Linked DNA regions of Homo sapiens. The protein of the gene in region 2 purifies or fractionates together with the protein of the main gene of each other region. This does not show direct contact. Each region holds a gene or a part of one and is shown on either strand. Other genes may lie near its edges.

Region 1 (3,913 bases), on a different chromosome or scaffold from region 2:
CTCTCTCAATCACTTTCTCTATCTCTAAGAATAAACAACTGGGTGCAGTAGCTCACACCTGTAATCCCAGCACTTTGAGAGGCTGAGGCGGGAGGACTGCTTGATGCCAGCAGTTCAAGACCAGCCTGGCCAATATAGTAAGACCACCCCTCCCCCATCTCCACAAATTTTTTTTTTTTTTTGAGATGGAGTCTCGCTCTGTCGCCCAGGCTGGAGTGCAGTGGCGCGATCTCAGCTCACTGCAAGCTCCACCTCCTGGGTTCACGCCATTCTCCTGACTCAGCCTCCCGAGTAGCTGGGACTACAGGCGCCTGCCACCACACCCGGCTAATATTTTTGTATTTTTAGTAGAGACAGGGTTTCACTGTGTTAGCCAGGATGGTCTCGATCTCCTGACCTCATGATCCGCCTGCCTCGGCCTCCCAAAGTGCTGGGATTACAGGCGTGAGCCACCAGGCCCGGCCTCCACAAAAATTTTTAAAAATTAGCTGGACATGGTAGCATATGCCTGTAGTCCTAGCTACTGAGGAGGCTGAGGTGGGAGGATCGCTTGAGCCTGGGAGGTCAAGGCCACAGTGAACTGTGATTGAGCCACTGTACTCCAGCCAGGGTGATAGAGTGAGACCTTGTCTCAAAAATAAATGAATAAATAAAACTGGGCACAGTGGCATATTCCTGTAGTCCCATGTACTTCAGAAGCAGAGGCAGGAGGATCACTTGAACCCAGGAGTTCAAGCCCAGACTGGGCAACATAGTGAGATACCCTTCTCTCTCTCTCTTTTTTTTTCTTTTGAGACAGAGTCTCGCTGTGTCACCCAGGCTGGAGCGTAGTGGCGTGATCTTGCCTCACTGCAACCTCTGCCTCTCAGTTTCAAGTGATTCTCCTGTCTCAGCCTCCCAAGTAGCTGGGACTACAGGCACCTGCCACCATGCCTGGCTAATTTTTGTATTTTTAGTAGAGACAGGGTTTCACTATGTTGGCCACTATGTTGGTCTTGAACTCCTGACCTCATGATCCGCCCGCCTCAGCCTCCCAAAGTGCTGGGATTACAGGCGTAAGCCACTGCACCTGGCCTGATACCCGTCTCTTAAAAAATACAAATAAAAAAGAATAAACAGTTTAAGCTAAGAAAGGAGAAGATTCTTGGTGCAGTAGTGGGTGCTTGAGAAAGAGAGAGGTTCTTTTCTTTGGTAATAAGATTTAATTTCCAAAGAAAACAACTCTAATGTCATAGAGCAGTTTCCCAAACCCTGAGTACTGCTCCAGGGCTTTCTTCAACACCCTGGCAGTTGTGGAATTGACTTGTGGGTACACTGCCTGAGTGTACTCAGAAGCTAGAGCAACTGAGCTGGGTTCAGAGTGATTCAGTTCGGTTGAGTCCCCTCCAAGTTCAGGATCACACTGCCACTTGCATCACTCTCCTGCCTTGGCTGCCTCTGAAGAAGGAAACCAAATGGCCGTTGGTGAAGAGAGCTTCTCAGACTCACTGGGAATGAGACCCTCACATACCAATAGAGAAATGGAGAGGCCTGCTATTAAATGAAGAGGAAGACTTAGTGACTACCTTTCTTTGCTTTCCTATTTCAAGAGCTGGTACCTCTAGTGATTCCCAAAAGCTCTACATAAAAGCTTGGGTCAAAGGTATATAGGCTTTTGTCTGGCAGCCTGGCAGTTGCAAAGGCCCCTCACAGTCAGTGGGCCCTGCTAGAAAGTAGTAAGGTAGGAGAGGGGATTTGACTCCAGAGGTGGGGCTCAGACACCAGACCAAATTGAGAACTAGCTAAAACAGGGTCCAGGGCAGAAGCAACTTTCCATAAGACATGGCCCACCAATGTGCCATGTCAGTTTACCATTGCTATGGCAACACCTGGAAGTTACTGCCCCTTTCCATTGCAATGACCCAATGACCCAGAAATTACCACTTTTTCTAGAAATTTATGCATAAACTGCCCCTTAATTTGCACGTAATTAAAAGTGGGTATAACTATAATGGCAAAACTGCCTCTGAGCTGCTACTTCTGGGCATACTGCCTATGAGGTAGCCCTGCTCTGCAAGGAGCAGTACCTCTGCTGCACTGTACTGGGCTGCTTCAACAAAAGTTGCTGTCCAACACCACTGGCTCACCTTTGGGCAAAGCCAAGAACCCTCCCAGGTTAAGCCTCAATTTGGGGGCTCACCTGCCCTGCATCAGTATGGGTTAGCTTAGCTCAGCTGCTTCAGTGAGCACATGCTTGGTCATATCTATCTCAACTGCACATATGTAGACCCAACCACTGTTGGTCTTTTTCTAATCCAGTGCTCTCTTATCAATTGGCTATATCAATTGGCTATATATCAATCTCCTATACCAGGAGAGAGCAACTTCTTTGGTACTCAGTGCTTCACAACAGCCATAGGTATGATATTTGAGGAGACAAGACAAAACTGAGGAGGAGAAAGGTAAAAAATAAAAATGAAGGCCGAGCATGGTGGCTCATGCCTGTAATCCCAGCACTTTGGGAGGCCAGGGCAGGCAGATCACGAGGTCAGGAAATTGAGACCATCTTGGCCAACATGGTGAAACCTCGTCTCTACTAAAAATACAAAATTAGCTGGGCGTGGTGCTGTGTGCCTGTAGTCCCAGCTACTCAGGAGGCTGAGGCAGGAGACTCGCTTGAACCCCGGAGGTGGAGGTTGCAGTGAGCTGAGATCACGCCACTGCACTCTGGCCTGGCGACAGAGCAAGACTCTGTCTCAGAAAAAAAAAAAAAAAAGGAAAGGAGAAGGAAAGGCAGAGACAGCCAGAAAAAGTAATATAAAGAGAGACAAAAAGTTTTGGCAAAAATAATTACCTTCATTAGTGTTCCAGGTCTCTTAATCCCTACCTTCATCTTTCAGAAATCAATTGCTGTTGCTTTGAAACTGAAGTGATAAAAAGTTAACATGGGGAGTATAATATACTGTGATCTACAGGAACTCAGTTCCCACAATAATTTCTAGTTTTCATGAGAAAGCCTATAAAGATTCACAAGGCCCTGCCAAGCTAAAACAGCAAAGAATGGATTTTGCTTACAATTAGTTTGTTCGCTGCCTCTTTAATCTTGTCTACTTTGGCTTCTGAGAGTCCTTTGACATTGCATAGAGCTCTTCTTGTTGTCATCTGTATACCTTTGATGGTACAGATTCCTACTGATTTCAGTTTCTTAATGTCAGCCACGTTCTGTAAATTAAAGAATGGGCACAGCAGACTGATAAGATGCCAGCCTGCAAGGCTCCCATACTATGTCATGTGTTTCTGTGTCCATCTCCTTCCACCATGATGCCAATTTTATACAAGCTGCCAGGTGGAACCCACCCACCATGTAGCCAAATGTTCTGGAAATATCTGAGTAGAACATACTCAGCAGGCTGCCAAATGTTCTGACTGTGCCCTGATTTCCCAAGAATGTTAGTGAGACCATGGCAATGTAACAAGGAATTCAAAAGAAAAGCCTGTTGGTGGAAAAGCTAACAAATTTATCACACATTCACCCCCTCAGTTCAGCTCCTTCCTTCTACAGAACTTCATTACCAACATGTTCTTTTAAATTTGTAAAGATTTTTTTTTTCCTCTGCCCCTGGAGAATGCAAATAACTACATCACCAAAGGACCAGGATTTTCTCTTGCTTCTATTTTCTAAAACCACTGAAAGAGATTAAATGTTAGGGCTACAACAGATAATGTCAGCACAGTTTTACTATCAACTGATTGCTGTTGAAATCCACCCAGGTCATTATTCAAAGGCTGGATTTCTGCCAACATCATTTATTCCAGTCGCCTGACATATAGAACTTAATTTTGTCCTCTGGATACACTTGACAATGTCTGGAGACATTTTGATTGTCACAGCTGCAGGGGTGCTACTGACATGCAGTGAGTGAGTAGAGGCCAA
Region 2 (3,913 bases):
TAAGCATCCATTTGGTGCCAGGTAACACTCTGGGTACTGACGCTATAACAGTCAACAAAGAAGAAAAAGCATTCCTCCCACCAGGAACAGACAATGAGCACGTGCATATACTGAACATACAGTACATCAGCTAGTGAGTGACACACACTGTGGAAAACAACAAAGCAGTGATGGAGGAGTGGAAGCGCTAGGGAAGGTGACTGCAATTGCAAATAGGCTTTCAGGGAAGCTGTTCTGAGAAAGTAACCACGGAACAAACACAGAAGGAGATAAGGATGCAAGCTTGTGCGTATGTGGGGGAAGAATATTCCACGTGGATGGCACAGCAACTGGTGACAGAGGCTGGAGCGCACAGGAATGAGGAGGCAGAGAAGGAAGGTGGGATCAGGGAGGTAATGGCCTAATTGTACAAATAGGTCATTGCAGAAGTGACTCAGTTAGAACCACTGAAAAATTTTAGGTTGCGGAATGACAGGAATTTATATAACAATAGGACCATGGTCACAGCTGTACTGAGAACAGACTGATGAGGGTTAAGGGCAGATGCTGGGAATCCAGCTAGGAGGCTACCGCAATAATCCAGGTGGCTCGGACTGGGGTGGTAGTGGTGGTGGTGGTGATGGGCTAACTAATGGTCAGATGCTGTATACGGTGTATCGTTTAGATCCAAACTAGAGGACCTGAATATGAGTTATAAGTCAAAAGGAAGAATCAAGGATGACTCCAAACATCTCTTCACTTGAGACCACATGGTACAGTTTTGACAACCATAAACCGAATAACCTTACATTCCAAAGTTGCATTGTGAATTACAGTTTTAAAATGTTGGCAATCTAGAAAGTCTTCTAGCAGAAAACTGTAGAAAAGAGGAACACTGGGTGATGAGGACAATACCTTGGAGCTCTCCTGTGGGCTCCATTCTTCCTATAGTGAAAGGAACCATAGATCTAGTCCCTTAAATGGACTTGATTAGGTGGGAACAGGCAGGAGAAGCAAAGCAAACACACAGAGGCCTAATAAAGTGTTTCAGGAAGATTTGGGGACACACCGACTTACCTGAGACATTATTCTGCAATTTCCAATGGCCAACAGAGTCCCCTTTCCAGGTTCTTATCTTAGAGATGGGCAGTGTCCTGAGGGCACAGAAAGGCAGGAAAAAGCAGTCATGAAAAATCGGGCTTATCTTGCGGCACCTGTCACACACCTTAATGGAAAAGCACACTGGTAATCACTCGCCGGAGCGTCAATCTCTCCCTGGGAAGGAACAGGGTGTTTCTCCGCAAGGGCTATTTACCAGGTGCCACCTGCGGGGAAAATCAATTATTCTGTATACAAAAGACTCATAAAACAACGGTAACAACTTTATCAGCTCGTTCAGTCTTCACCACTTTGCAAGGTGTGCATTCATATTATTCCAGATTTTTTTTTTTTTTTTTTTGAGACGGAGTCTCGTTCTGTCTCCAGGCTGGAGTGCAATGGAGCGACCTCGACTCACTGCAACCTCTGCCTCCCGGGTTGAAGCGATTCTCCTACCTCAACCTCTCGAATAGCTGGGATTATAGACACGTGCCACCACGCCCAGCTAATTTTTTTTTGTATTTTTAGTAGAGACGGCGTTTCGCCATGTTCGTTAGGCTGGTGCGGTGGCTTACGCCTTTAATCCCAGCACTTCGGAAGGCGGAGGCGGGCGGATCGCTTGAGGTCGAGTTCTAAACCAGATTTATTTTTTAAAATGAAGACAAAACTGAAATTCCGAGATACTGAACCCATTTGTTCAAGGTTGCACAACTGAAAGCGCCGGCTTCATGACGACATAACCCAAAAAAAACTGTAGCTGGCGTCTGCTCTCGCGCCCACTTCGCTCTCACAACAGTGCCAAGAGGTCGGCGCCGTCATCACCCCGCGTTTACACGGCTCAACAGGAAGGCCAGGAAATGCCCAAGGCCCCGGCCGTGGTCAAACCGCGCGCGGACCCAGGGCCTTAGCCCCGCCGTCGCCGCGACCCACACTTGCCGGAGTCCTCAGCAGGGCCTCACCGTCCCGCAGGCGCCCCGAGCCCGCGCCTCCGCGGACCTGACGCGCCGCGTAGCTGGTGAGCGGGTAACGGCGGCCGACCTCCGGGAACGACACTGCCCCAAACCGTTCCTTAGCTTGGAAGCCGCCGCCAGGCCTGAAGCTATCGCGGGACTGACCCAGTGCACCGCCCACGGCGAACCACATTTCCCAGAATCCTCCCCCTGCGGTACAAATGTCCCGGAAGCCGCGAACCGCCGGCACCCGAAGACCACACTTCCCAAGGGTCTCTGCGGCTGCGCGGACCTGGTGCGCCGCGGGCAAACCGGTCACGGCTTTGTAAGTAGCTTAACCGCCTGGGGCCGTCGACCTAGAGCCGGCCAGCTAGGACCATGCGCAAATTGTCCTGGGGCACACAGTCGTCCTCTGGTGAACGATACAACTCGAAACCAAGGGACACCCTCTACTTATAAGGGCCATGGCGCCCGGACCAAGAAATTACATTTCCCAGAAAACTGCAGCCGTGCCAAGGTCTTCCGGGTCATTCCTGCGCTCACACAAACGTTTCCCTCCGAGACATGGGCAGCCCTTGCTGGTACCGCGCAAGTGCTCGCCGTTGCTAGCAAAGGGGCTCCTCTCATCCCAAACCCTGCCGCTATGCTGTTCACCTTCAGGTCTTTTTTTTTTTTTTTTTTTGGCACTCATTTGCCCAAGACGATAACTCACAAAACGCCCTGTGGCCCGACTGTCACGACTGTAGTTCGCCAACCAAGGGCATTTCCTGGAAATGCAAGGGGACACGTATCTGTGACACTAATGGCCGTTCTGACGTGCGTTACGCCCCTGGAAGGACTTGGAAATACTGAACTTGAGTGAGCACTGGGAGGATGGAGACCCTCATCCTGGGAGGAGTCACTCCTCCCGCAGCCATCACAGCCTGACGCCCCCTCTCCCCAGAAGTGCTTCTTAGGCCCACCCAAAAGGGCAATGGACCTCTCTGTATGCAAGCCAGAGCAGTCTACTGTTTGTGTATATTTGGGTTGTTTACTTTCTTTTTAACACTTAAATGTTAATTGACTTCAATCATTTTTAAAATTATAAATAGTGTCGCTATAGACTTTTTTGTACTTATTAAGTACTGACCTGCATGATCTTCGTGAAGCAGTGCTTCTGTTACCAGAAAGGGGTCCGGATCCGACCCCAAGAGAGAGTTCTTAGAGCTCACGCAAGAAAAAATCCATGGGAGAGCACAGTGCAAAGCCAAAGCAAGTGTATTAAGAAAGTAAAGAAACAATGGGTACTCCATTGTTAGAGCAGCAGCTTGGGCTGCTGGACTAGGGATACTTGTATTTATTGCTTGATGATGTGCTAAACAAGGGTGGATTATTCATGAGTTTTCCAGGAAAGAGGTGGGCAATTTCAATTTCTCGGAGCTGAGGGCTTCCCAGCTTTTTGAACCATACAGGGTAACTTCTGAACCTTACCATGGCATTTGTAAATTGCCATGGCACTGATGAGCGTTTCTCTTAGCGTGCTAATGCATATAATTAGCATATAACCGAGAGGTGAAGCCAGCTGGGCTTCTGGATCAGGTGGGGCCTTGGAGAACTTTTCTGTATAGCTGAAGGATTGTAAATACACCAATCAGTGCTCTGTGTCTAGCTAAAGGTTTGTAAATGCACCAGTCAGCACTCTGTAAAAACGGACCAAACAGCACTCTGTAAAATAGACCAATCAGCGCTCTGTAAAATGGACAAATCAGCAGGATGTGGGCGGGGCCAAATAAGGGAATAAAAACGGGCCACCCGAACAACCAGCGGCAACCGCGCTGGGGTCTACTTCCCAGGTGTGGGATGTTTGTTCTTTTGCTCTTTGGGTCTGCACTACCTTTATGAGCTGC

Evidence for each region.
Region 1: the proteins of ZNF302 (region 2) and DMC1 purify together in Homo sapiens (affinity purification with mass spectrometry; 2 studies listed by BioGRID and IntAct, with this or other methods). This does not show direct contact.

What each region holds. Positions count from the first base shown.
Region 1 is NC_000022.11:38,563,536-38,567,448, forward strand, and holds part of DMC1 (meiotic recombination protein DMC1/LIM15 homolog), read right to left. Parts: intron 3,202-3,913; coding exon 3,055-3,201; intron 1-3,054. UniProt on the Homo sapiens protein: Participates in meiotic recombination, specifically in homologous strand assimilation, which is required for the resolution of meiotic double-strand breaks.
Region 2 is NC_000019.10:34,675,957-34,679,869, reverse strand, and holds the start of ZNF302 (zinc finger protein 302), read right to left. Parts: upstream 2,193-3,913; 5' UTR 1,767-2,192; intron 1,134-1,766; 5' UTR 1,066-1,133; coding exon 1,057-1,065; intron 43-1,056; coding exon of another isoform or gene 1-42. UniProt on the Homo sapiens protein: May be involved in transcriptional regulation.